Homo sapiens: one gene and its partners. The protein of the gene in region 4 interacts with the protein of the main gene of each other region in a biochemical or structural test. Each region holds a gene or a part of one and is shown on either strand. Other genes may lie near its edges.

The links.
Region 1: the proteins of MSH4 (region 4) and DMC1 form a complex in vitro, tested with the Homo sapiens proteins (one study listed by BioGRID).
Region 2: the proteins of MSH4 (region 4) and VBP1 form a complex in vitro, tested with the Homo sapiens proteins (one study listed by BioGRID).
Region 3: the proteins of MSH4 (region 4) and MLH3 form a complex in vitro, tested with the Homo sapiens proteins (2 studies listed by BioGRID).

The regions. Positions count from the first base shown.
Region 1 is NC_000022.11:38,546,173-38,553,199, reverse strand, and holds part of DMC1 (meiotic recombination protein DMC1/LIM15 homolog), read left to right. Parts: intron 1-492; coding exon 493-534; intron 535-3,202; coding exon 3,203-3,275; intron 3,276-7,027. UniProt on the Homo sapiens protein: Participates in meiotic recombination, specifically in homologous strand assimilation, which is required for the resolution of meiotic double-strand breaks.
Region 2 is NC_000023.11:155,226,446-155,233,472, reverse strand, and holds part of VBP1 (prefoldin subunit 3), read right to left. Parts: intron 6,239-7,027; coding exon 6,172-6,238; intron 5,090-6,171; coding exon 4,991-5,089; intron 1-4,990. UniProt on the Homo sapiens protein: Binds specifically to cytosolic chaperonin (c-CPN) and transfers target proteins to it. Binds to nascent polypeptide chain and promotes folding in an environment in which there are many competing pathways for nonnative proteins.
Region 3 is NC_000014.9:75,048,452-75,055,916, reverse strand, and holds the start of MLH3 (DNA mismatch repair protein Mlh3), read left to right. Parts: upstream 1-4,449; 5' UTR 4,450-4,537; intron 4,538-6,198; 5' UTR 6,199-6,261; coding exon 6,262-7,465. Other genes in the region: ACYP1 (acylphosphatase-1 isoform c precursor), read left to right, coding at 2,258-2,473. UniProt on the Homo sapiens protein: Probably involved in the repair of mismatches in DNA.
Region 4 is NC_000001.11:75,876,875-75,883,901, forward strand, and holds part of MSH4 (mutS protein homolog 4), read left to right. Parts: intron 1-61; coding exon 62-126; intron 127-1,274; coding exon 1,275-1,444; intron 1,445-2,117; coding exon 2,118-2,254; intron 2,255-3,175; coding exon 3,176-3,279; intron 3,280-4,371; coding exon 4,372-4,496; intron 4,497-6,746; coding exon 6,747-6,947; intron 6,948-7,027. UniProt on the Homo sapiens protein: Involved in meiotic recombination. Required for reciprocal recombination and proper segregation of homologous chromosomes at meiosis.

The DNA of each region.
Region 1 (7,027 bases), on a different chromosome or scaffold from region 4:
TGACTGTTACTAAGGAAAACTTGATTTAAATTAATTTATATTAAACAAATAAGGCCGGGCGTGGTGGCTCACACCTGTAATCCCAGCACTTTGGGAGGCTGAGGTGGGCGGATCACCTGAGTTCAGGAGTTTGAGACCAGCCTGGCCAATATGGTGAAACCCCATCTCTACTTAAAATACAAAAACTAGCCGGGCGTGGTGGCAGGCACCTGTAATCCCAGCTACTCAGGAGGCTGAGTCAGGAGAATCGCTTGAACCCGGGAGGTGAAGGTTGCAGTGAGCTGAGATCGTGCCACTGCACTCCAGCCTGAGTGAGAGCAAGACTCTGTCTCAAAAAAAAAATAAAAAATAACATCCGAGATACTTTATAAGTAAGATTTGCCAGTTGGAAAAGAAAAAGAAAACAGTAATATTCTAAAGCCATGTTTTATTCTTTATGAAAATATCTGGAAATTATGCATTTTTAAAATCATTTTTTTCTGTATTTCACAGAATTTCGTACTGGAAAAACCCAGCTTTCTCATACCCTCTGTGGTAAGGATATATAACAACAATAACAATAATAATCATGGCTATTACTTATCAAACATCTACTATGTGCCTGATACTCTAAATAATCTCATATCTGAACATACTTGCAAGGAAACTAAAACACAGGCAGATTAAGTAAACTGCCCGTGGTTATACAGCTGGTCTTTGAATGTGTGATCCTTGAGGTGATGTATGTGCTGCACTATGAACACCTGAGTAGAAATAGAGAGAAGTTGAATGGGTGTATGAATGTGTTGGTGAGGAGTCCACTGTCTCAGTTTTTCCCATTCCATCTTTTCTATATCTTTTTTAGAAGAGTGACACAAAATCTATTGAGTCCTAGAATCTTTCACTTTCCATGGCATAAAATTGGCCCTAAGAGAGACTTAAAAACAAAATTGTTTTAAACAAAATAACGAAAGATATCTCCTTTTCCACAAATACACTACTGTGCATTTCTTTGAGCTATGGAGAAGGAACTTGGCAAAGTGGTTAAGAAAGGAGTTCTGGCCGGGCCCGGTGGCTCACGCCTGTAATCCCAGCACTTTGGGAGGCCGAGGCGGGCGGATCACAAGGTCAGGAGATCCAGACCATCCTGGCTAACACGGTGAAACCCGGTCTCTACTAAAAATACAAAAAAATTAGCCGGGCATGGTGGCGGGCGCCTGTAGTCCCAGCTGCTGGGGAGGCTGAGGCAGGAGAATGGCGTGAACCCGGGAGGCGGAGCTTGCAGTGAGCCGATATCGCGCCACTGCACTCCAGCCTGGGCAACAGAGCAAGACTCGTCTCAAAAAAAAAAAAAAAAAAAAAAAGAAAGGAGTTCTGGAATCAAAATGCCGGACTTCAATCCTGGTTCTATCGTTAGTAGCTGTGTGACCTTGGGCAAGTTGCTCTACTTCTCTAATTTCCCCCACCAATAAAATTGAAATAATGACAGTGCCAAATGTTAGGATTGTTTTGAAAAGTAAATGAAATAATGTATGTACCTGGTATAAAGTAGCTCCTTAGTGTTAACTACTACTACATAAAAAGTAATTGCAGTCTAGCGTGGTGGCTCACACCTGTAATCCCAGCACTTTGGGAGGCCAAGGCAGGAGGATCTCCTGAAGTCAGGAGTTTGAGACCAGCCTGGTAAACATGGTGAAACCCTGTCTCTACTAAAAAATACAAAAGTTAGCTGGGCCTGGTTGAACATGCCTGTAATCCCAGCTACTGGGGAGGCTGAGGTCAGAGAATCACTTGAACCCGGGAGGCAGAGGTTGCCGTGGGCCGAGATCGTGCCACTGTACTCCAGCCTGGGCGACAAAGTGAGACCTGTCTCGAAAAAAAAAGTAAATGCATTTTTAAAATTTGACATACATTAATTTAAAGGTAACATATTAGTTATATAGCATAAATTATATTTGTGACTTTTTTTTTTTGAGACGGAGTCTCGCTGTGTCACCCAGGTTAGAGTGCAGTGGCGCGATCTCAGCTCACTGCAACCTCCGCCTCCCAGGTTCAAGCGATTCTCCTGCCTCAGTCTCCTGAGTAGCTGGGATTACAGGCACTCACGACCATGCCCGGCTAATTTTTGTTTTTTGTATTTTCAGTAGAGATGGGGTTTCACCATGTTGATGAGGCTGGTCTCAAACTCCTGACCTCATGATCCGCCCACTCGGCCTATTTGTGACTATTTCTTTCTTTTTTTTCTTTTTTCTTTCTTTCTTTCTTTCTTTCTTTTTTTTTTTTTTTTTTTGAGATGGAGTCTTGATCTATCACCCAGGCTGGACTGCAGTGGCACGATCTCAGCTCACTGCAACCTCCGCCTCCCAGGTTCAAGCAATTCTCCTGCCTCAGCCTCCAGAGTAGCTGGGATTACAGGCATGCACCACCACACCCAGCTAATTTTTGTATTTTTAGTAGAGACAGGGTTTTACCATGTTGGTCATGCTGGTCTTGAACCCTTGACCTCAAATGATCCACCCACCTTGGCCTCCCAAAGTGCTGGGATTACAGGCATGAGCCACCATGCCCGGCCATATTTGTGACTATTTCTTGTAGAAAGAAAGTTAGTAGGTTGGGCGCGGTGGCTCAAGCCTGTAATCCCAGCACTTTGGGAGGCCGAGGTGGGCAGATCACGAGGTCAGGAGATCAAGACCATCCTGGCCAACATGGTGAAACCCCATCTCTACTAAAAGTATAAAAATTAGCTGGGTGTGGCAGTGCCTGCCTGTAGTCCCAGCTACTTGGGAGGCTGAGGCAGAAGAATTGCTTGAACCCGGGAGGCGGAGATTGCAGTGAGCTGAGATTGCGCCACTGCACTCCAACCTGACGACAGAGCTAGACTCGTCTCAAAAAAAAAAAAAAAAGAAAAGAAAAGAAAAAGAAAGAAAATTAGTAATATTTAAATTTTATTTCCATTCTTTGGGAGAACTAACTTTCACGAATATCTTCCATTGTGAAAGATAGTGAAATTATTTGTTGAATAACAACTATGCTGGCAGAATACTTATAATTTCACACTGGTTAAGTAATATGAAAATATAACATGTTGTTTAGAAACGAAAGGATCATGACTCTTTGCAAAATGTACTAAAGAGTTGCAACAGCAGATTCCATGTGTATTTATATAGTCATGTGTACAAAGTTTATTCACTCCTATTAATATAAATTTTTAATTGCTTCCTAGTGACAGCTCAACTTCCAGGAGCTGGTGGCTACCCAGGAGGAAAGATTATCTTCATTGATACAGAAAATACTTTGTAACCTTTTTATTTAAAGTTGCTAACATAATAGTGTGATATAGGAATGTTACCACTGAAGAGTTTGTCTGAGATATACAATCTTTGTAGTCATTCCATAAACCAGTAGTAATGAGACAAACCAAAGGGAAAACAATTACTGTTTAAGTTCTCCAATCACTTTGTATTTAATGAGGTTTCACTTCTTCATATGGGTTTATGAGACAAAACAAATACATGAGAGGAAATTATATCATCATTTTTAATCCTCTTACTTCTCTAAAGATGTTGCTTAATAGTTAGAAAAAAGATTTTTTTTTTTTTGAGACGGAATCTCCCTGTTGCCCAGGCTGGAGTCCAGTGGGGCAATCTCGGCTCACTGCAACCTCCATCTCTTGGGTTCAATCAATTCTCCTGCCTCAGCCTACCGAGTAGCTGGGATTACAGGTGTGTGCCACCACACCTGGCTAATTTTTTTGTATTTTTAGTAGAGACAGGGTTTTGACATGTTGACCAGGCTGTTCTGGAACTCCTGACCTCAGGTGATCCACCTGCCTCAGCCTCCCACAGTGCTAGGATTACAGGGGTGAGCGACTGCGCCTGGCTGAAAGATTATTGACTCACTGAAAGTCATGGTCCCAAATGAAGGGAACGGTATGAAGAGGGTGAAAGTTAATAAGGAAAACAGGCAGAACCTGTTTGGGTAACACAACGAATTGCAGTTTAATTAAAGTGTAAGGTATTCCAGGATATGGGCTAGAAAGATGATTGGGATCTTAGACATGAAAGGCTTTGAAACAAGATAGTGGGTGTAAACTGGATACTTTAGCAATATTCTAGGCAAGTAATGAGAACTTGATCTAGGTTGGAACTGGTAAGAATAAAAAGAAAAGGAAAAGAAGTATTAGGAAAATTGATAGGACTTGATGGCTATATTTGGTAGACAAAGGAAAGACAGGTTTGAGAAACCGCTCAGGTTTTTTGTCTAGATACTAGGAGAATAGTTATGTGATGCTAACAATAGAACTGGAAAGATCATGCTTCAGAGAAAAAGAGAAAAGGTGATGTTTCATTTTAATGTACTAATTTTACTTTTTTTTTTTTGAGACAGTGTCTTTCTCCATCACCCAGGCTGGAATGCAGTGGTGCAGTCTCAACTCACTGCAACCTCAGCTTCCCAAGTAGCTAAGTTTACAAATGTACACCACCACACCTGGCTAATTTTTGTATTTTTAATACAGATGGGGTTTCGCCATGTTGGCCAGGCTGGTTTTGAACTCCTGACCTCAAGTGATCCACCCACCTCAGCCTCCCAAAGTGTTGGAATTATAGGCGTGAGCCATCACGCCTGGCCTAATTTTTTTCTTCTTTTGAGACAGGTTCTTGCTCTGTTGCCCAGGCTGGAGTGCAGTGGCCCAATTACACTCACTGCAGACTCGAACTCCCAGGGTCAAGTGATCCTCCCACTTCAGCCTTCTGAGTAGCTGGAACTACAGGCACATACCACCACGCCTGGCTAATTTTTTTTATCTTTTGTAGAGACCAGGTTTCACCACGTTGCCCAGGCTGATCTCCAACTCCTGGGCTCAAGCGATCTGCCTGCCTTGGCCTCCCAAAGGACTGGGATTACAGGCATGAGCCATTGCACCCAGCCATCATTTTAATGTATTGAATATGATGTACATGAGGATATCCAGATGGCACTGGGAAATATTGAATTCAGCTTGAGAAAGGGGTAGGCCCAGAAATATGGACGAATTAACCAAGGGGGAAAGAGAACTTATAGAGAGAGAAGAGAGGAGAATTGAGAACATAACTTTGAGGTATGTTTATATTTAGGAAGAGGACTAAAATGAGAAACCCAGAGACAGAGGAAGTAGAAGGAAATCTGGTTGTAAAAGTCAAGCAAAAGGAAAGTTTCAAGACGATGAGTTGTCAGCAATGTTACACACACACGGATTTTGAGGATACAGCCTGAGAAAGATCATTATAAGTTCAAAATTAGGAGTTCAAGCGAACATTTGCCATAGGGTGAGGTGATAGAAGCTTTATGTAAACAAACAACAAGGGAGGGAGGCAGTATGAAATTGACCAATGAAAGGAAGAAGGCTAGGCACCGTGGCTCACGCCTGTAATCCCAGCACTTTGGGAGGCTGAGGCGGGTGGATTACCTGAGGTCAGGAGTTCGAGACCAGCCTGACCAACATGGAGAAACCCTGTCTCTACTAAAAATACAAAATTAGCCGGGCGTGGCGGCACATGCCTGTATTTCCAGCTACTCAGGAGGCTTAGGCAGGAGAATCGCTTGAACTGGGAGGCGGAGGTTGCGGTGAGCCGAGATCGTGCCATTGCACTCCAGCCTGGGCAACAAGAGGGAAACTCCGTCTCAAAAAAAAAAACAAAAACAAATAGGAAGAAAAAATATACTAGTTTGAGGAGGTATTCAGAGGAAATTCTTTTTAATAACAAAGAAGACCTATGCACATTTGTAAGGCTGTTCACAGTGAAGCCCCAGCCTGCCTCTCCAAGCTCAGTACTCACCATTGCCACTATTAGAGGCAAAGAGATGAATCTGTTTTAGTCCATCCCATTGCCTGTAAACATACTTTGTTATCAAAATTTGCACATATGTCTAGTCTCACTCCAGTGATCCCAGCACTTTGGGAGGCCAAGGCAGGAAGATCACTTGAGGCCAGGAGTTCAAGACCAGCCTGGGCAACATAGTGTCTCTACGAAATAAATTTTAAATTAGCCAGGTGTGGTTGCTATAAATCCCAGCTACTTGGAAGGCTGAGGCAGGAGGCTTATTTGAGGCCAGGAGTTCATGATTAGCCTGGGCAACATAGCAAGACTCTGTCTCTACCAAAAGAAAAAAAATCTAAAAACATTGTACATCAGCAGTTATTTAGATTTAACTATAAAGATTTTTGTTTTCTTTGTTCATTATGGTTTCTTGCATCCCAGATGTTATTTTTTCCTGTATTTTTGTTTTGCTGTAATACTTATTTCTTTCAGAAATGTAATACAGGTGGTAAACTTTGAACCTTAGTATGTCTGAAAGTGCCTTTATTTTGCTCTCACTCTTGGCTGTTAATTTGTCTGGTCACAGAGAACTTTGCATGGTATATTTCTATCTTCTTGGGTATTTGCTCCTTCCATCCCCATCTCACAGTCTTTCTGAATCATACAAATCATTTAAGGCTCTCATTTCAAGGCCTGCTTTTTCTAATCTTCCCTAATTACTCAATTTAGAAAATCTTGTCCTTCTTGACCTATTATAGAATTTACTATCTAAAATACTCACTTAGAAAACAAAACAGAGAACTGTTTGCAGAAGTCCCTTTTCAGAAATGCCAGGCATAAGAAGTCTCTGAAAGAGCCTTTTAACTTGGGGAAGGAGGGTGAAATGTCGTACAGGGCTTTAACAAGGGTGCTCAGCTGGAGTTCAGCTGGTTTCAGAAACAATTGATTAAGGATGATTCTTATCTCAGAGAGGGAAGAATTGTTCTTGCAGAGTAGCAGCCACTGTTTGGGCAATTTGGAGTTTTTTTTTTTCGAGATGGAGTTTCACTCTTGTTGCCCAGGCTGGAGTGCAATGGTGCGATCTCGGCTCACTACAACCTCCATCTCCCAGGTTCAAGCGATTCTCCTCCTCAGCCTCCCGAGTAGCTGCGATTACAGGTGCATGCCACCACACCCGGCTAATTTTGTATTTTTAGTAGAGACAGGGTTTCTCCATGTTGGTCGGGCTGGTCTCGAACTCCCGACCTCAG
Region 2 (7,027 bases), on a different chromosome or scaffold from region 4:
TAAGAGCAGAGAACTTTTTCTGGCTGGCAGCAGAATGAGAAGTTTGAAAGATCTAAAGTGTAAGAAAGACTAGTCATATCACTGCTTTGAAAACAGAAAGGACCATGAGCCAAGGATTGCAGGTGGCCTCTAGAAGCTGAGACTGACTCCTGGACGACAGGCAGCAAGGAAACAGGGACCTCAACCACAGAGAACCGGATTTTGCCAATAACGTGAATAAGGCTGAAATCTAATTCTCCCCCAGAGATGCTAGTAAGGAATACAGCCCTGTTGACAATTTAATTCTGGCTTTGTGGGACCCTGCACAGAGGACCCAGCCAAGCCCATCTGGATTTCTGACCTATACAGCTAGGAGATAATGGATATTGTTTTAAGCCTCTGAGTTTGTGGTAATTTGCTATGCAGTTTCTTTCACTCAACCTTGTTTGTGAAAATCACCCTTGCAGTGCTGGCGTGTAGCAGCAGTTCATTCCTCCTCTGTACTGTATAGTATTCCACAGTCTGAACACATCATGATTTACTCATCCATTCGACTATGATGAACATTTGGGTTGTTTCCAGGTTTTGGTTACTACAGAGTTGATATGAACATTCTTATACCTTTCTTTTAGTTAATATTTATACATTTCTTATATACAGCAAGAGGCAGAAAGAGATAGAGACAGGCATGGAACTGCTATGGCATAGGCAATGCATATGTTCTGCTTTAACAGATACTGCCAGTTTCCCCAGTGGCTGTGTCCATTTACACCTTCACCAACAGTAAATCAGTGTTCTCACTATTCCATGTCCTACCATCACTTAGTATCACCCTACCATTCCGGTGGGTACACAGTGAGATCACATTGTGCTTTTAATTTGCATTTCCCTGTTTACTAATGAAGTGGGACAACTTTTCATATGTTTACTGGCCATTGGGAGGCCCTCTTTTTGGAAGTCACTCACCCATTATCCTGAGGAGTTGCTTATCTTTCCATGTTATCCTTAACAAAAAAGTTTTCTAAAAAATTTAAGTATATAAATATTAGGAAAAAAATGTTTGCAGATTTGGTGAAAGGAGTACACTGTTAAGATAAAATTATAAATATCTGATAAAGTCGATTACATTAAAATTTAAAACTTCTAAGAGCTACCACAAAAGACAAGTGACAGATGAGAAAAAGTATCTGCAATATTAAGAGAAGACTGTGCATCCGAAATACATAATATATAAAGAAGACCTAAATGTCTATCAAAAAAAAAAAGAAAAAGAATCCAACAGAAAAATGGAGCAACAACATAGTCAGGAAGGGAAACAGAAGAGGAAATACAAATGAGCATTTTGTCATACAAAAACCTATAAGATGATACTATTTTCACCTATAAAACTAGCAAAAATCTAAAAATGTGGGTGAGACTGTTAATAAAAGGGTATTTTTATATACGGTTGGAGAAAATGAAAATTGGTAGTCTTTTCTGGAGAGCAATTTGATAGTATCCATCAACATGTTAAATGTGCATACTCTTAGACACAACAATTCCATTTCAAAGCAGCATACAAAAATATGCCTTTGTATACAAGTCTATATGTGCAAAAATATTTACTACAGCACCGCTCACTGTACAAGAAATTTTAAAACAATCCAAACACCCCTTGACTTGGGAATATTATCACATAGCCCTACCACAGAATAGTAAGCCAATAAAACCAAGGAGGCAAACTCTGTGTCTACTCACAAATAAAGACATCTGTGCTGAACAATATACAATATATATCCCATTTTTGTAAAAACAATTAACAAAATTCCAAATATTTAGGTACATACAGATGTACAGACATGATTAAAAGTGGGTGCATCTGGGGATGGAGCAGTAGCCTGCTGCTTTCTATTTGCTCTTTGAACCATTAGCATGTATGAACTCTGATGAAAAACTAACAAAAATGTCATTCACCCAAGAAAAATTTTTACTGAGCACTTATTATGTGTCAGGGAACTGGTAAATACACCAATCAATAACATATCAGGGAGTGCTAAGTACTTTGAAGGAAAACAATACAAGATAAACAGTACAAGTGAAACCAAGAAATGCTGACAGACAAGTCATAGCAGGTCCCTGGGGGAGCTAACAATCAGAACTGAGAACTCAAAGGATTGAGTGTGAAGAACACAGAAGTAGAAATGTGGGGCCACACTGGCAGGTTCCAGGAACAGTTAGGGGGCCACCATGGCTACAGCAGAGTGAGCAAAAGAATGAGCATAAATGAGTGCTGAGAGGGAGTAGGGCTGTCCTGTGGAAAGGACACCTCTGTATTCCACCCTTGGTGACAGGGAAACCACTGGGGTCTTGAGCAGAAAAGCGGAATCATCTGACATGTTTTAAAAGCACTACTCTGGCAGCTTAAGCAGAAGAAAGAGCTAGAATAAAGGTTCTGAGGCAGGGCCATTCCCAGCATGCTCTAAGTCTGGCAAGAAGTCCAAGTGTGGCCAAGCGAGGAAGTAAGAGAAGAACAGAGAGACTGGACACGGTGGCTCATACCTGTAATCCCAGCACTTTGGGAGGCCAAGGTGGGCAGATCACCCGAGGCCAGGAGTTCGAGATCAACCTGGCCAAAATGGCAAAACCCCGTCTCTACCAAAAAATTTAGCTGGGCATGGTAGCACGTGCCTGTGATCCCAGCTATTCAGGAAGCTGAGGCACAAGAATCGCTTGAGCCCGGGAGACAGAGGTTGCAGTGAGCTGAGATCACAACACTGTACTCCAGCCTGGGCAACAGAGTGAGACTCTGTCTCAGAAAAAAAAAAAAAGAGAGAAGTAACAGAGAGTACCAGGATGTATAGGAACTTGTCAGCCACTCAAAGAACTTGGACTTTTCCTCGGAATGTGATAAGAAACCATTCAAAGATTTTGGGCAGAATAATGGAATGACCTGATTGAGATTTCAAAGGATTAATCTGACCACTGTGCTGGAAAGACTTTAGGAATTCCAGCAAGGGCAGAAGCAAGACAGTGAATTAGGGTATTATTATGGGTTAAACAGTGTCCCCAAAAAAGATACATTTAAGTTTTAACCCCTTATACTAGCGAATGTGACCTTACGTGGAAGTAAGGTATTATGGATTGAATTCTGTCTCCCCAACAAAAAATAAGTTGGACTACTAACCCCCAGTAGCTCAGAATGTGACTTTATTTGGAGATAAGGTCTTTCAAAAGGAGAAATTTGGACACATGCATGCACACATGTGAAGATGAAGGCGGAGATCACAGTGATGCTTCTACACATCAACATGCCAAAGACTGTCCGCGAACACCAAAGCTAAGAGAGGAGGCTAGAACAGATTTTCCCTCACAGCTCTCAGAAGGAATCGACCCTGATTCTGGGGCTCATCACGGACTTCTGGCCTCCAGAACCATGAGACAGTCCATTTCAGTTGTTAAAGCCACCCAGTTTGTGGTAATTTTATTATGGCATCCCTAAAAACTAATAGACAGTATTCCCACAGTCCTGGCAAGAGACAAAGGTGGCCTGGACCATGGTAACAGCAGTAAGGAAGTGAGAGATAGTTGGCTTCTCAATCTATTCAGAAGAAGGAACCAGTGGGGTTTGCTGAAGGACTGGTTGAGAGATATAAAATAAAGAAGAGTCAAAGAAGACTCAAAGATTTTTGTTCTGAGCAACCAGGCAAAAGATTCTGCCATTTACTGAGATGGAGAAGATTGTGGGAAGTGCCAGTCTATGAGTGGTGAAATGAGGATTTAAACATTCAAGAGGAATGAAAGAAGAAAAACATGAAAAGAGCAAGAAGAGCTCAGCAAAGAAAATGAAGAGAAAGAGAAACAGAAGAACAGTTACAAAAGACAGAGTAAAAGCAACAAAACAGAATAACTACCAGGGAAAACACAAAGTCATGGGGAAGCAGCCAGAGGAAATCACACAGAATGAAACACATCGAATAACTGAAAACAGAGAACATGATAGGTACTGAAAACAGATAAAGGAGATCGAACATATGCATATTTATTATTCCCAAAAGATAATAAAAGAAATGGGGCAAAAGTCACATTCAAGTACACAACAGAAATTATCTTTCCTGAAATAAAGTAACACTTGAATTTGTGAATCAAAAGGTCATGCAATTTCTACAAAAAAACTGAATACAGAAAATCATTGAATCCTTGGACACTCAGGTGTAGTTGCTATGCTTCAAAGTTATTTTTTAAAAAGCCTTAGTGATAAATTATAAAAGATAAATACTGAAATGCAGATTGTAGAGTGAAATATAAATGTTGTACAAACTTTGAGCAAACCTCCTTGGGCTAATCTAGAGTGCCTCTCCAGAGTGATCCTACAGGACAGCAGCTAGGGGAAATCCTCCCCGTAGGACAGCTGGTAGAAGTACACTTGGCTTGCTACTTTGTATGAGAACTTGCCTGAGGTAACAAGATCCACAGACAGGTAGCTGGATAGTCAGAGGACTGAGAAGAGCAAAATAGGTAAATCACAGATAAGCTCAATGAAATCATCTAAAACTGAAATACATGGTTTTAAAAAATAAACTCTAACCTCAAACTTTTTGCAATACTCTTTTTCCCCTTAAATTGAGAGGGATCTTTCTAGAATTATTAAACTCTTATGGGAAGAAGCGTTTATCTAAAGTTCAGCAGTACCTTCTATTTTACTTCTATTGCTCTTCCTCCATTATATTTAAGAGAGATAAAGCACTAACTGGAAGAGAAGCAGGGTTTGTTTGATCAGTTTTATCTTGATTGGGAGAGACTTCAGTATGTTTTTACTGCGATCTTCATCGCACTTCTGATTCTAGTCAATTTCTAATATGAACCACTTGGACTCTGTCCCTTTGTCCCTTCCACAATCAAAAGGAGATGAACACTTTACATATCTCGAGCAATACTACTAAAATACTAGCAAATACTAGCAAAACCAGTGTGTTTGCTACAGAAAACACACTGGTTTACAAATATATCAGCTGTGGCTATAACATTTACTTACCCCCAACCACAGACACACTTTATCGGTAGGAGGAACTGAAGCTTTGCAATACAGGTTATCTGCCAGCAAGAATCTGGTCTCCATTGAGTTGGTGGACTCCTTCAAAACAAAAAAAAAAATGACAGTACCATAAACAGGCCAGTTTGATACCAAGGTTATAAAGGAGAGATTGCACAGTTGAACCTAGGACATTTAAAACAGTACCATCATGCAGGCTAAGTGTAGTGGTAAAAGAAATGAATGCTAGACCCAGGTGGCTGGGTATGGACTCTGGCTCAGCTACTCACTAGCTGTACAAATCTGGCATCTCACTTAACTTCTATATCTCAGGTTCTTCATCTGTAAAATGAGGATTACAACAGTCCCTACACCTATGAAGTCAGTGGTAAGCACTGAGTATACACAGACACACACACACCCCCGAGTGCCTGACATACAGAGAAGGCATTATTGTAAGAATTAGCCATTCTTCTATTATTTCATTGGTGCTTCATGCCCAATCAATCAGTTGCTGAAGTCTTACAAAGTTCACCACATATTAAAATGTACTAGAAATAGTTATTCTACCAGTCAAGCAAAATCATAAGCATACACACAATCTTTTAAATACAATATGCTTATGAGATTTAATCTTTACAACCTGCTTTTATTTAATGAATACTGGATTAAGACTTAGAAGACTCTCAAATTTAGTTCTGCCAGTAACTAACTACATAGACAATGGTCGAGTATAACCTCTCCATAACCATTTCCTCAACTATGAAATGAGAACCTGTAACAGATGATCTCTAAGATTCGTTCCAGCTCTATAAATCTTGGACTAACTCCTTATTCTTAGGGAGAAAGACAACAACAAAGAAAAAACCCTAGATGCTGCTAGCACAGAATAAGACATTTTCTTTGTACACCTAAAACAATTTCAAATTGCATTTAAGTTTCACAAGCACTAAAGATAAGCAAAGTAATCCAAGTGTGGGCCCTAGAATTAAACTTGACTTTTGGGGGAAGGCCACAAAGCCACATTTGCTACAGAAGCACATCATAACATTAGTGTATGTGCTTAAGAAGGCAGACTGGATTCCACAGCACAGATCAAATATCAGTGACCAAAGAGTCAAAGAAGACGAGTTTCTGCTGACATATCCTAGCTTGCTCATATTTACAAACAAAAATGCACTTACTTTTTTCTTCTGCATGTATTTTAGAATTTCCAAAGTCTGTTTAATTTCAGGAATCTGACCTTTTAGCCTGTGAACAAGAAAAAGAGTAACTTAGTATTTTGCAGGCAAAAATAAACAACAGGACACGGTCTTACTAACTTTGCATTTTCTACTAATGTGTTCTTGAGGACTATTTATAGATATAAAATACTTAAGATATTTTTAGATATGAGATAAAATAAGATATAAATATTTATAAAAATAAAATATTTAAAGAAATATTCACCAAAAGAAAATATATTTAGTAAAATATTCATAAAATATTTAAAGTATAAATACTTAATAAAAATATTTAAGATATACTAGTGAATGTTTATGGAATGCCCATTCCATGAAGACAAAGCTCTGTTCTATTATGTCAAATACCCCATGGCTATTTAACATTTCTAGAGCAGACTATATTCCACAGAGGTGATTCATAGGTTCTGCATTTGATTAGAATGAAATTTTAAATAGATTAATTTTAAAACTAATTTTAAAAATAACATGGATTCAAAAGTTACATTCTAAAATAGAAGACACCAATCCCCTATCCAGTGATGCACATAGCTACTCCTGGTGTGTGCATTGGGTATACACACATGTACATCACAGTCAGCTAAATGCCAGGCAAAGCACAGTGACACCTTCTCAGTATGTGCACTTGTCACACTGTGAAAAATGTACAGAATCATCTGAATGCCAAACACACCACATTATGATACAGTATAATTTAGTGATTCTTTTAAGCTTTGGGTATTTCTTCCTTAACTTTTATGTTGATAAATGCTCTTCTTTTCAAATGAGGTAACGATCGTTCTTAAAATTATAAATGGAT
Region 3 (7,465 bases), on a different chromosome or scaffold from region 4:
TTTTAGTAATTTGAGGCTTTCATCCGTTTTTCTTTATCAGTCTAGCTAAAGGTTGTCAATTTTGTTGATCCTGTCAAAGAAGCAACTTTTGTTTTATTGATTTTCTCTATTCTTCTGCTTTCCATTAATTTCTGCTCTAATCTTTATTTCCTTCTTTCTGCTCATTTTGAATTCAGTTTGCTCTTCTTTTTCTAGTATCCTAAGGTGGAAATCTTGATTATTGATTTGAAGAGAGTTTCTTTTTAGATTGCAACTAGAGGTGGTGATTACAGTCCTTGAAATGTTGTCAGATGATTGTTTAAGCAAAAATATGGTTATGAGGTAGAATTCACTTTTTGGAATTTTCTTAGGGGAGAAAAACCCTGTTGGTGCAATAGATATTCAAAACTGAACATGAGTCAATAACATTATGTCATCATTAAAAAAATAAGAACAGAGTTGAGCACACAAATGAAACCAGTAGGAAACGCCCATTCTCAACACTGGTCAAATTTTGGAGTGTTCTGTTCAACTCTCAAGAGTTCAGATAAGGCCAGGTGCAGTGGCTCATGCCTGTAATCCCAGCACTTTGGGAGGCCGAGGCAGGCGGATCATGAGGTCAGGAGATCGAGACCATCCTGGCTAACACAGTGAAACCCCATCTCTACTAAAAATACAAAAAAATTAGCCGGGAGTGGTTGCGGGCGCCTGTGGTCCCAGCTACTGGGGAGGCTGAGGCAGGAGAATGGCATAAACCTGGGAGGCGGAGCTTGCAGTGAGCTGAGATCACGCCACTGCACTCCAGTCTGGGCGACAGAGCGAGACTCCGTCTCAAAAAAAAAAAAAAAAAAAAAAAAAGAGTTCAGATAAATCACATTGCAAATTTTTAAAGATTTATTTGACTGTGACAACCTCCTGTTTAAAACTGCACATTCTTACAGCTATTTACCATATAAGATAACTCTTAAGAACTGGAGATAGTCAGCTCCCCTGGGTTAATTTGAAGCAGAAGAGGGCAGTTGTTATACTGCCCTGTCAGTTGGATGCGGAGTCTTACTCAAAATTCATTCTCAGCATTCTTCTTTTATGGTATCTTCTTTGGCACTTAGCAGCGCATCAGGTAGGCATCTTCTATTTTTCTTCATTCCTTAATTTCCTTTGTATCCCTCAAATGGTTATTTATTTGGCTGGAGTCTGTTTTGTTCATTAAGCAAACATGTCTTTGCTTTGAACATGTCTTTGATTTGATGGATACTTAAATTCCTCATCAAACATTTTGTTGCTATGCATAACGTTTTCTTTGGCCAACTCCAGCAATTTCCCACATTTTGACATGCAATCATGTTAACTCCCATTTTCTTTTGTAATCCAACATCTTCTATTTAGATAATTACTTTAACAATCAATGACTTAATATTCTAATCATAAATTTATACAAAAATAAAATTACCTCCAAAACATTGCTACCTTTCCTAAACATTCAGTCTTGCCACAGTTTAATAAAAGGAAAGAACATTAAAAAGGATAAGACACTGTAATGATTAGATGCTTTTTATAAGCCTAAAGGCATTGTGATTATTTAGACAGAAGAGAAGAAAGTGAAGTGAAAACCTGATAGTTATGTAGTCTCATGGTTTGCTGTTGAGAGGCTGAACACCAGCTGCTTTCCTTTTCTAGGAAGATAATAAAGTGGGCTTTGGCTACAACATAAAGATGTTGGGTTAGACAGTTTCACTACAGTAAGAACAACGGGATGAGTTGCCCAGGAAATTGTGAAATACTTTCTAATGATCTTTAAAGATATAATGAACACTAATTCATCTGGATTTGTTTACGTGTGGTCCTGGTTAAAGGCAAAGGGAAGGATCAGATAACTTCATGTTTTTTCCATTTAACATACCCAATAGATTCTTGATTAGGGGAAGGGAAAATGAGCAAGATACAGTCCAGTATTCTAAAAACAATCAGCCTTAGGGGATCATTTCAAAAGCATCTGTTTTGGACTTAAGTCTTTGATACTTAACCAAATTGACTACACAGTGAAAAATTCTAGTGCCTGGGTTTTATAGGGTAGAAGAAAGACATGCAGTCAAGTGGCCAATACTTCATGTGAAGATAAGCAATGAGATCCTTCTTGCTGTCTTTCTTTTGACTGTTCTGGGCAATATCAAATTAGTTTCAGTGGCTTGATTCTAGGCCAAGATTCTGGCAACAGATTGTAGTCTTACCTTGTTTTCTTCAATCTCACTGGATCTCTCTCTCTTTTTACCCCCCTTAGGCTGAGGGTAAAAAGCTGGGATTGGTAGGCTGGGTCCAGAACACTGACCGGGGCACAGTGCAAGGACAATTGCAAGGTCCCATCTCCAAGGTGCGTCATATGCAGGAATGGCTTGAAACAAGAGGAAGTCCTAAATCACACATCGACAAAGCAAACTTCAACAATGAAAAAGTCATCTTGAAGTTGGATTACTCAGACTTCCAAATTGTAAAATAATGGCCTGAATTTAAGTTTTCTAAGATAAACTCAGTGGTTTGGTTTTTATTATTAATAGAGATAGAACTATTGTGTGTTAATATTAGCATTAGTCAATAAGTTATTTTAATGTCAGATTTTTGAATGTTATTATATATTACCTGTATGATGGAAGGATTACCACTGTACACAAATCTAATCAATAAAAACGTTAGAACCTTCTGCTTAGAGTACTTTTAAAAAATCTTCAGTGAACTTCCTTTTGGGCGAAATGAGAGGTCTTTATTCAGTAAACATTTGTAGGAAGAGGATTTTGAGGTAATTTAAAGAGGTCTGAAAGAAAAAAAGTCTGAGTCATTTCTTTAAATGGTTTCTATGAAATGTTCTTCAAGAAATTCCATGCCTAATAAGAACAAATACCACAAGTTCAATTTGTTAGCTCTGTTCACCTTATGTTTGGATGAATTACTTCTGCTGTTGTTTCTTTTCTCTGGGTAAGGAATTCACATAAAGTTATGTTATGGGCTGAACTGTGTCCCACCAAATTCATATGTTAAAGTCTCAGTCCCCAGTACCTCAGAAAGTGACTGTATTTGGACATAGGGCCTTTAAAGAGGTGATTAAGATTAAATGAGGCTGTGAGGGTGGGCCCTAATCCAATCTGACTGGTGTTCTTATAAGAGAACATATTGGCTATAGACACGTGTGCAAAAATCAAAGACCCTGTGAAAATGGCCATCTACAAGCCAAGGAGAGAGGCCTCAGGAGAAATCGTTGCTGCCAACACCTTGATCTCAGACTTCCAGTCTCTAGAACTGAGAGGAAATAGACTTCTGCTGCTTAAGCTACTCAGTCTGAGGTATTTTGTTATGGCAGCCCTAGGTATAGTAATAATCATAAACAGTTATCAGGATTTTGCTTAATCAGCCCTAGAAGACTGGTTGGTTGGGTTTGGTTAGTCACTAAACTAGCATATATCAAATGCTTACCAGGTCTGACAAATTCGTTATAAATTCCACTTTAAATTCTCAATGAAAATGAGATAGAAAGCAAAAACTAAGGACTGGTTAACAATTCCAAAACACTTTATTCTCACAGCATTCTCAGAGTTCTGCTCTCCTTTAGTTATTTTTATAACTAAAAGCTGTGGTGGCACTGGGGAGATTCAAGTCAGTGAAGAGAGTCTTGGTGTTGTCATCTGTAAATTAAGAGTTGAGCAAAGGCCGGGTGCGGTGGCTCACGCCTGTAATCCCAACACTTTGGGAGGCCGAGGCGGGCAGATCACCTGAGGTCCGGAGTTCGAGACCAGCCTGACCAACATGGAGAAACCCCCGTCTCTACTAAAAATACAAAATTAGCCGAGTGTGGTGGCGCATGCCTGTAATCCTAGCTACTCGGGAGGCTGAGGCAGGAGAATCACTTGAACCCTGGAGGCGGAGGTTGCAGTAAGCTGAGATCGCACCACTGAATTCCAGCCTGGGCAACAAGAGCTAAACTCCGTCTCAAAAAAAAAAAAAAAAAAAAAAAGAGTTGAGTTAGACAGTTTCTCAGCCTTTTCCAGCTCCAAATGCCATAATTCTAAGATGGCAGGCTCTGGAATTATTCATTCATTCGGTGCCTACCATAGGCCAGGCACTGTTCTTGGTAACTGGGATACAGCAGTAAACAAAATATATAAACTCCTTACCTTCACATAGCTTACATTCTAGGGAGAGAAGACAATAAGTAAACACATAAAATATATATTGAATTAAACGGTAGTTAAGAGCAAAGGTGAAAATGAGAAAAAAAAGGAAAGGGAAAACACGGGAAAAAAAAATAAAAACAAAAGTAAAAGCTACGACATAGTCTTTAACACCATGCCAAAAGGGAATAAGGATTGAGACTGTAGGTACCGGTTCACTGAACCCTGGGATGCGGATCCTTGGCTGGAACAACTGGTGCGCATGCGCACTGGTGTCTCGCGGCCTGGCGCGCCCCCTCCGAAGCGCATGCTCGTGGGCACGCACGAGCCTCAAGATCCAAGGTGCGCGCGTCGGCGTCCGAGGCGGTTGGTGTCGGAGAATTTGTTAAGCGGGACTCCAGGTGACTCTGGGGGAAGCACGCGACGAAAAGATGATGCCGGGGTCTCTTCTAACACCAGAAGGGCCCTGATGATGGCTGCGCGCAGCTTTCGGAGCCGGATGCGCGAGGGCCCCGGAGGCCCGGCGGCCTGGCGGCCGGGCGGGCCCAGTTTGGGGACAAGGACGGGGCTGGCCAGGGAGGGGCTGGGCCTGGCGGGAAGGCAGCGCTGCCCCGGACTCGGCCCGCGCGGCCCTCCCAGGCCCCCGTGCCCTGGATCCAGGCCCGTGCGTCCCGTCAGTCCCAGGCGCTGGGAGGCGTCATCAGGAAATCATTGGGTTTACATTAATCGGAATACTTGTTAAACGTTTACCCGTCAGTTGCTGCCGGCTGCTTAGTGCATTAGCTTAGAAAGCAGCAGAAATTCTGCAGTTAAGAGCCCTGATTTGTCCCGAGTTTGGAAAACCGGCCCCACCGCCTGCAGGGGCCCACCCACGTGGCTCTCACTGATGGAGAAGAAGGGGAGACCTTTAATGGCACTGGAATCTTAGGGTTTGGTTTTTTTTGTTTTGTTTTTTGTTTTTGTGTTTTCACTTGCAGGAAAACTTAAAATCAAGTTCAGGCAGCCCCATGCCATCATTATTATTACCAAGGTAGTTTATGCCCATCTGTAAAGACCAAAAGAATATTAATAATGACCTTCTGGCCGGGCGCGGTGGTTCACACCTGTAATCCCAGCACTTTGGGAGGCCAAGGCGGGAGGATCACTTGAGTTCAGGAGTTCGAGACCAGGCTGGTTAACATGGTGAAACCCCATCTCTACATAAGAGACAAAAATTAGCCAGGCATGGTGGCGAGCGCCTGTAATCCCAGCTACTCGGGAGGCTAAGGCTGGAGGATTGCTTGAGCCCGGGAGGTGCAGGCTGCAGTGAGCCGAGATTGTGTCATTGCACTCCAGCCTGGGTGACAGAGTGAGACTGTTTCAAAAAAGAATAATAACGACTTTCTAAAAACATCAGAGTAATACATGAACAGGATTTAACAATCAAATGGCAAAGAAAGGTTTATATGAAAAGGAATTTTCCTGCTTTATCTTTTCCCATTCCCAGCCTCTTTCCCTGAGGTGACTATACTTAACCATAATAATAATAACCTCTTAATGCCCCCAATCTCTCTTTGATACAATTTGATTCTTAAAATTTCTTCCTATTGCTTCACCTTATTACAATGTCTTAGCAATTCATTATAAGTATTTTTCTAAAAGTCATGGTTATTGTGTAATGTATAAATGTTATGAAACTAGCTTGGACATTTTTGTCATGAATAATTTCTAGCTAATGTTCCTTAGCTGTATTTAATTTAGGCATCTGTTTTTGGTGAAGTGGTTAGAATTTCGAATACTGTGTTTACTGGTCAACTTCAAGTGTAATTATGATTTCACTTTAGGACATGTGGGATTTAGAAAGGAGCATTGAAAATTATGAAATTATGAATTTTTTTTGGATGTTAATCCATTGCACCAAGCATGAGCTGTGCCTAGAGATCAGCGGTATAACTTTGTTTTGCTTTGTTTCACAATTTGGTTTAATAAGAGTGATTTCATTTACCTCAAGTGCTATTTCTTCATAATGCTGTGTAATGCTAAAGCTTTGATTATGTGCGTGTGTGGTTTTTTTCTCCAATAGGCAATTATTTCCAGTCAGAGAAGGAAACCAGTGCCTGGCATTCTCACCATCTTTCTACCTACCATGATCAAGTGCTTGTCAGTTGAAGTACAAGCCAAATTGCGTTCTGGTTTGGCCATAAGCTCCTTGGGCCAATGTGTTGAGGAACTTGCCCTCAACAGTATTGATGCTGAAGCAAAATGTGTGGCTGTCAGGGTGAATATGGAAACCTTCCAAGTTCAAGTGATAGACAATGGATTTGGGATGGGGAGTGATGATGTAGAGAAAGTGGGAAATCGTTATTTCACCAGTAAATGCCACTCGGTACAGGACTTGGAGAATCCAAGGTTTTATGGTTTCCGAGGAGAGGCCTTGGCAAATATTGCTGACATGGCCAGTGCTGTGGAAATTTCGTCCAAGAAAAACAGGACAATGAAAACTTTTGTGAAACTGTTTCAGAGTGGAAAAGCCCTGAAAGCTTGTGAAGCTGATGTGACTAGAGCAAGCGCTGGGACTACTGTAACAGTGTATAACCTATTTTACCAGCTTCCTGTAAGGAGGAAATGCATGGACCCTAGACTGGAGTTTGAGAAGGTTAGGCAGAGAATAGAAGCTCTCTCACTCATGCACCCTTCCATTTCTTTCTCTTTGAGAAATGATGTTTCTGGTTCCATGGTTCTTCAGCTCCCTAAAACCAAAGACGTATGTTCCCGATTTTGTCAAATTTATGGATTGGGAAAGTCCCAAAAGCTAAGAGAAATAAGTTTTAAATATAAAGAGTTTGAGCTTAGTGGCTATATCAGCTCTGAAGCACATTACAACAAGAATATGCAGTTTTTGTTTGTGAACAAAAGACTAGTTTTAAGGACAAAGCTACATAAACTCATTGACTTTTTATTAAGGAAAGAAAGTATTATATGCAAGCCAAAGAATGGTCCCACCAGTAGGCAAATGAATTCAAGTCTTCGGCACCGGTCTACCCCAGAACTCTATGGCATATATGTAATTAATGTGCAGTGCCAATTCTGTGAGTATGATGTGTGCATGGAGCCAGCCAAAACTCTGATTGAATTTCAGAACTGGGACACTCTCTTGTTTTGCATTCAGGAAGGAGTGAAAATGTTTTTAAAGCAAGAAAAATTATTTGTGGAATTATCAGGTGAGGATATTAAGGAATTTAGTGAAGATAATGGTTTTAGTTTATTTGATGCTACTCTTCAGAAGCGTGTGACTTCCGATGAGAGGAGCAATTTCCAGGAAGCATGTAATAATATTTTAGATTCCTATG
Region 4 (7,027 bases):
GATATGTTTGAATGATCTTGTAATTGATTATCCTTAACTTTTTTATTTTATTCTTTAATAGATTGCTATGAAGAACTGTAACACACCTTTATTAAGAGCTTACTATGGTTCCTTGGAAGACAAGAGGTCTTTGTCACTCAACCGTTAATAAAAAATAAGATTATTCTCTTCTTCCTGATCATAACTGATTTTAAAGACTCTAATTGTATTCTATGGAACAATTACTTGAGTTTTGGTTAACAGAATCTTTAACCTATTCATCAAAATTCTAATTGTACATTTCACATTATAAGTAGAATAAATAGGGTAACAACACATTGATTATTTGTGTTAAAGGACAATTAGAATAGCATGAAAACTTGAAATCCAAGCACAATTTTAATATTTCCTTTTAAAGCCATTCTCCATGGAAAGACTTGCAAATAATAAAAATATATTTCTTTATTTTGTTAAATCATGAAGGGTCTAATGTAACAAAAAATAGTAGATATAAATATTGAATACAATCTAAATGCTGTTTAATTTTAACAGTATTAAATTATTAGCAGTAGTTGTGGACTGAAGAACTACTGGTTCAATCCAGACCTTGGTTCTGAACTGAAAAGATTTGTGATACTTAAGAACTATTATTCTATTAATTGAAGATTTATCCCGTGTGAGGCCACACATTGAAGTTAATAATAAAACTGGCTTAATTACAAATAAAATATAGAATGGAATGAAGGAAAAGTTGAGGAAAATATGTGTTACCAGATTTCTGGTTTGCATAATCACTGAACTTTACCACTGGTAATTGTGAGGTTCCTGTTACGCTGTCTACATATGTGTTTAGTGTCTCTTGCCTCTACCGAAGGCAGGGATCATATGTTATTCTTCTCTGAATCTCTTCACCTAGCACAGTGCTTGATACATGGTGTACATTGATGTTTATTGAGTGAATGAGCATGAAGCCACAATTTTTATGACAGTTCTTTAGAGATGTATTTTGTACCCACAGGCACATCAGTATATGTAATTTGTGAGCTCTATTAGCAGATGTAGAATTGTTTTTGGGGTCCTGATGCTGTTTTAGACTAGTCCTGACTGATGAAACAGTTTAAATATGAAATAGTCACAGCTCTAACTTAAGTAAATTTAAATATTTGTTGCTTAATTAGTTATTTCAAAATAACTTTCAACAAAAATTTGCTATCATCAATTGTGATTCAAATTATAAATTAAAATAACTCTTTGACTTATTGCCTATAATGTTTTTCTTTTGGCCTTAATATTAGGTTTGGAATCATACTTGAAAAGATTAAAACAGTAATTAATGATGATGCAAGATACATGAAAGGATGCCTAAACATGAGGACTCAGAAGTGCTATGCAGTGAGGTCTAACATAAATGAATTTCTTGACATAGCAAGAAGAACATACACAGAGATTGTAGATGACATAGCAGGTAATTTCTTTATTTGATAATGTTTTTTGTAGGGATAAAACAGCCTTTTCAGGACATGCTGTCCTTTTTTGCTGCTGATGACTAGCCATACATATTTTAAATTTATTTTTCGTTACCAAAACATAAGGTTAGCATGTAGTGCCATTTAAGGAAACAGCATATGTGGCAGCCTTCATACTAAACTCCTTTTGAAAACCTTCCATTGCCAAGTGCAATAGCTCATGCCTATAATCCCAGCACTTTGGGAGGCCAAGGAGGGCTGATAGCTTGAGTCCAGGAGTTTGAGGCTAGCCTTGGCAACATAGCTAGTCTTTTGTAGAGACAAGACGTTGTCTCTACAAAAACTGAGAAAATTTGCCAGGCATGGTGATGTATGCCTGTAGTCCCAGCTACTCCGGAGGCTGAGGTAGGAGGATCACTTGGATCACTTGAGCCCAGGAGGTCGAGACTGCAGTAAGTTATGATTGTGCCACTGTGCTCAGCCTGGGCGACAGAGTGAGATCTGTCTTGAAAAAAAAAAAAAATTATTAGAGTTTGAAAGAGCAACAAGACCTCCTATTTATGTATAAAATAAGAATTTAAAAACCATGTGACTCTTTAAAACAGAGTGATTTTTCTCATTAAAATTTATTCATTTTGTTTTGTTTTTGTTTTTCTTGTTTCTGGTCACCAGGAATGATATCACAACTTGGAGAAAAATATAGTCTACCTTTAAGGACAAGTTTTAGCTCTGCTCGAGGATTTTTCATCCAGATGACTACAGATTGTATAGCCCTACCTAGTGATCAACTTCCTTCAGAATTTATTAAGGTTCATTTTAGAGTGGTTAGGAAATTAGTGTTTCTGATTTTATAGAATTACATCTACATATTTTTGGGACTTCTTGAGTTTTGCAAGCCAAATTTCTGAATGTTCTGTATCTTCTCCTATTCCTACCCACCCACCTAACTAATGTACTAATCTAAGAGTGATTTAGATGCTTTTGCAGAAATACCAAACTCAGTGTTTTCCACAGTTCTGGGAGCTTGGTGTAAGAAAAAAAGGAAAATGAAGAAAGAACATCCAAAAGCTGTTTATGATAAAAGAAATTAGGAAAATACCACACCATTTGCCTGTTAAAGGTTTAAAAAGTCCTGAAGTAAATAAATCTACTTAACTTTTAAAAATCTAATATTTCCAAACCTTTGTACCACAGGAATAATTTTTCCTATATAGCTCCTTTACAATATACCAGTTTGGGAAAGTCTAACCCACTCTAATCTTTGTTCTATCTGCTTAGGGGGTACTTTTTGATAAGAACAAACCATTTAGCTTTCAGGCTTTTAGAGCTTGAGTACGATTAGAGATTGAGTTGAGGTTCAGATATAGGACAAGGGCTGCGACAGGGGTCAGAGATGGAGTGAGGATCACTGATGTCCATCATGCGTGTTACTTGGTAATAAGATGTAGTGTTTTTAACATTTTAAGACCTATCAGAGTAGTCATCCCAGATGAACTAGGTCAAAATATCCTGCTTTTTAAAAATGAATGTATGGGTTAAAAAATTTGGCTTTATCCTTTGAAGTGATCTACCTCTTACATTTCACAAATATTATTTAGAACTTTCTTTGTGATACCATATCTCAAAGAGTAAAATGATTAACCTAAATACCCATATTTCTGTTGTTTAAAATCTTACATTTCATAGTAGTGTGCATTTATCTTGACATTTGTTTTTTAATCTCCAAGCAGATTTCTAAAGTGAAAAATTCTTACAGCTTTACATCAGCAGATTTAATTAAAATGAATGAAAGATGCCAAGAATCTTTGAGAGAAATCTATCACATGACTTATATGTAAGAGCATTTGAAGTATTTGAATATTGAATTAAATTGGTTTAATTTGAGAAACTGTTACAATTGTATTAGTTTAATTTTTATCTAATTACAGACAATTGTAGAATTATGCATGTTAGCAAAGGAAGTCTGTCTTTGTGATTAGAATCACTGAGCCTCACAGAAGCTTCGGGGAAGATCTAATTGCAAACAAATACTTTTATAATTGATATTTCTGTAATGTGCATTCTACCATGATGTAGAACTTGGCACATCAGGGGCTTACCTGGGCTTCGTTCAGTTTATTATTTTCCTATGGTCTGTAAGTCCTCAGCTTCTTATACCTTGATATTAATAATTCAATAGCAATATCACAATAGTGTCAGTTCTTTTGCTGGTCATGAAATAGTAGCAATACAGCCAGAAAGAAGAAGTAGAAGATTTAGAACACTTATTAGGCTGAAGTAATAAAGAGAAAGGTTGGGCTTTCAAGACAATTTCAAGGCATGTACCACCAACATTTTAATATATAGTAAGTTTTGGGTACATATTTATCTTTGCAAGAGAAAAACTTTTTGCACTATATCACAGTATAACTCTGCCTTATAAAAACTTAAATAATTATATTATTCAGATATTGTGTCTGTGTGCATGTGTGTGAGTGAGAGAACAAGAACGAGAGAGAAAGAAAAAATGGATGAGAGAGAAAATGCATATAGTTTTTGTGTTGAACTTAACATTTGCAAATTCACAAAGTGATTAGCAAATGGGATCTTTCCAAGTATAATGAGGGCTTGATTTGACCTATATCAAATATTCTTAATAATAAAAACTTATTTTATTAATATCATATAAAAGCAGTTATTTCAAAAATGTTATGTTAATACACAAGAAGATAGATTCTTTGCCACTAAGTAGCTGTGATCTTGAGCAAAAACTTCAATTTCCTCATCTCTAAAATGAGACAGATGAACAATAGGCTTTATCTATAGTGTATAACTCAGATGTGAATATTATTTTACTTCAGGCAATGAATTTAATATTATTTTACGATTACAATGTATGTCCCTTTTGAAAAAACATTATTACATGTCTTACCAAACGTGTTTTCAGGATAGTGTGCAAACTGCTTAGTGAGATTTATGAACATATTCATTGCTTATATAAACTATCTGACACTGTGTCAATGCTGGATATGCTACTGTCATTTGCTCATGCCTGCACTCTTTCTGACTATGGTAAGTTGCTTTCTTTGGAATAAACATATTGCATAGTTAAATTTGTATTCGATTCAAACAATTTGATATAATAGTTATGACATTTAAAATTTTTAACTTGAAATAGAGTCTCTTGCCTCTGGTCCTAGACTAAGACACAAAATAAAGAAAGTGAGATTACCCTTAAAATTTTTTTTGAAGTAAAAATTATTCTCTCAGAAATTGGCAAACCAAAAAGAAAAAATTGCAAGAAACTAAAGATTCCCCAAATAAGAAAGACTGTAAGAGCTGTCTCCTTGGTAAAAATGACAGTGATCTAAATTTATAAAGTTCAAATCTGAATACTTATTAGAAGCAGCGTGATAAACGTTAATAGAGAGAAATGCATCTCCAGAGTGAGCATTTTAATCCACTAGCTCTTTAGATGTGAACATACCAAAATTAGGAATTATGTAATTTATTTTTATATCCCAAGTCTATAAAAAGGCCATGAATATAAATGTTAAGTAATTTTCTCATGTTAAATGAATACTTCGAGTTAGTGCTTTGACATTTCTTATCTAACTTACCAGTAATAACCATACTCCAGTATGCAAATTTACTGGACTAGTATGTGATAATTATGGTTGAATAATTGTAGACTTCATTACATTAAAAACATTGAAATTTCTAATGTAAATCAGCAGTAAAATTTCTAAAATGTTATGTTAATTTACTTTTATGGGATGTATCTTAAGATTTTTTCATATTTCTTATGGAAATATTAACTTTTTCTATTGGTATTTTATAGGCCAAAACTTTTCAAACTTTTATATCTCCTTTGCATCAAAACTCTACTTTAGGGGTCAGATATTCCAATGGTAGTTTTGTTTTTAAACTATTAAGAGATTTAGTCTTGCTTCATTTTAGTTTGAGAAGGATCATTCTGAAACTCCATATCTATAAATAATGAATTTTTGAAAATACTTAAAATTTTTTTTCTAACCTCACTTTTATGATGAATGTTTTCAAGTTTATGCATTTTAGATAAAGGTATGGAACATTTTGGTTTTCACATATGCTTTCACCCTCTTCCTCCTCCCCCCACTTCAGGTGGTATCCATAGAGACCTGATCCTTATTTATTTCTATAGATTAGCAGATTATTTGTGTTGATCTTCTCTATTCTCATTCTCTGAAATTTCCTTTTATACAAAATTTCTCCATGGGCTTAGAAAGAATTATTTTTATATTTGATTTTATTCTATAATCATACCTCAACTTATGAGCTAGGTGTTTGAAACCAGCCTGGGCAACATAGCTAGACCTCATTTCTAAAAAAAAAAAAAAAAAAAAAAAAAATCGGTGAGAAGTGGTGGCAGGTGCCTGTACTCCCAGCTTCTTGAAAGGCTGAGGCAGGCAGGAGGATGGCTTGAGCCCAGGAGTTTGAGGCTGCAATAAGCTATGATTTTGCCACCGTATTCCAGCCTGGGTGATAGACCAAGACCCTGTCTCTAATAAATACATAAATAAATGCTAAGCGTACCAAATTTGAAATAATATTAAAGTAGGGAAGTAGTGTTTAAGGTAGAGTAAGTAAATATGCAACTCTGTATTACCAGTAACCAACTATGATTTTTAAAGTACAATCAATGAGTACTTGGTTCTTTTTTATTTTTATTTTTATTTTTTTTTGAGACAGAGACTCACTTTGTCAGCCAGGCTGGAGTGCAGTGGCACAATCTCAGCTCACTGCAGTCTTCACCTCCCAGGCTCAAGAGATCCTCCTATCTCAACCCCACAAGTAGCTGGGACTACAGGCATGAGCCATTACACCTGGCTAATTTTTTTTTTTTTTTTGTAGAGATAGGGTTTGACCATGTTGCCTAGGCTGGTCTTGAACTCCTGAGCTCAAGCAATCAAGCAATCTGCCCTCCTCCGCCTCCCAAATGCTGGGATTACCAGCATGAGCCATCACGCCTGGTCTGCTTGGTTCTTTTTAATCTACAAAAAGCTGAAAATTTTATAAACTATTTTGGAGCTCAGGACAGTGGTAAAGAACTAAATTCTAGAGTTCTCTAGAAGTGAATAAAAGTTGTGATAGTGATTAGAGTGTGTCCATTATAATTTAGAAGAATTTGGGTGGGGATTTGGGATAATATAGTACCTTAATGTTATTATTCCAAATTGACCAGTGTGAAAATCACTAAGATATAGACAATACATACACACTACAAAATCTTTAGACACAAATATATTAATCTTTAAAAACCATTCTATTTTTTTTCTTAAGTTCGACCAGAATTTACTGATACTTTAGCAATCAAACAGGGATGGCATCCTATTCTTGAAAAAATATCTGCGGAAAAACCTATTGCCAACAATACCTATGTTACAGAAGGGAGTAATTTTTTGATCATAACTGGACCAAACATGAGTGGAAAATCCACATATTTAAAACAGATTGCTCTTTGTCAGATTATGGCCCAGATTGGTAAGTTATGGCTTTATTTATAATGACCAGTTTTACACTCTTTTCAGAATGCTTTGTGCCTAATTTTTTTAGGGCCATGT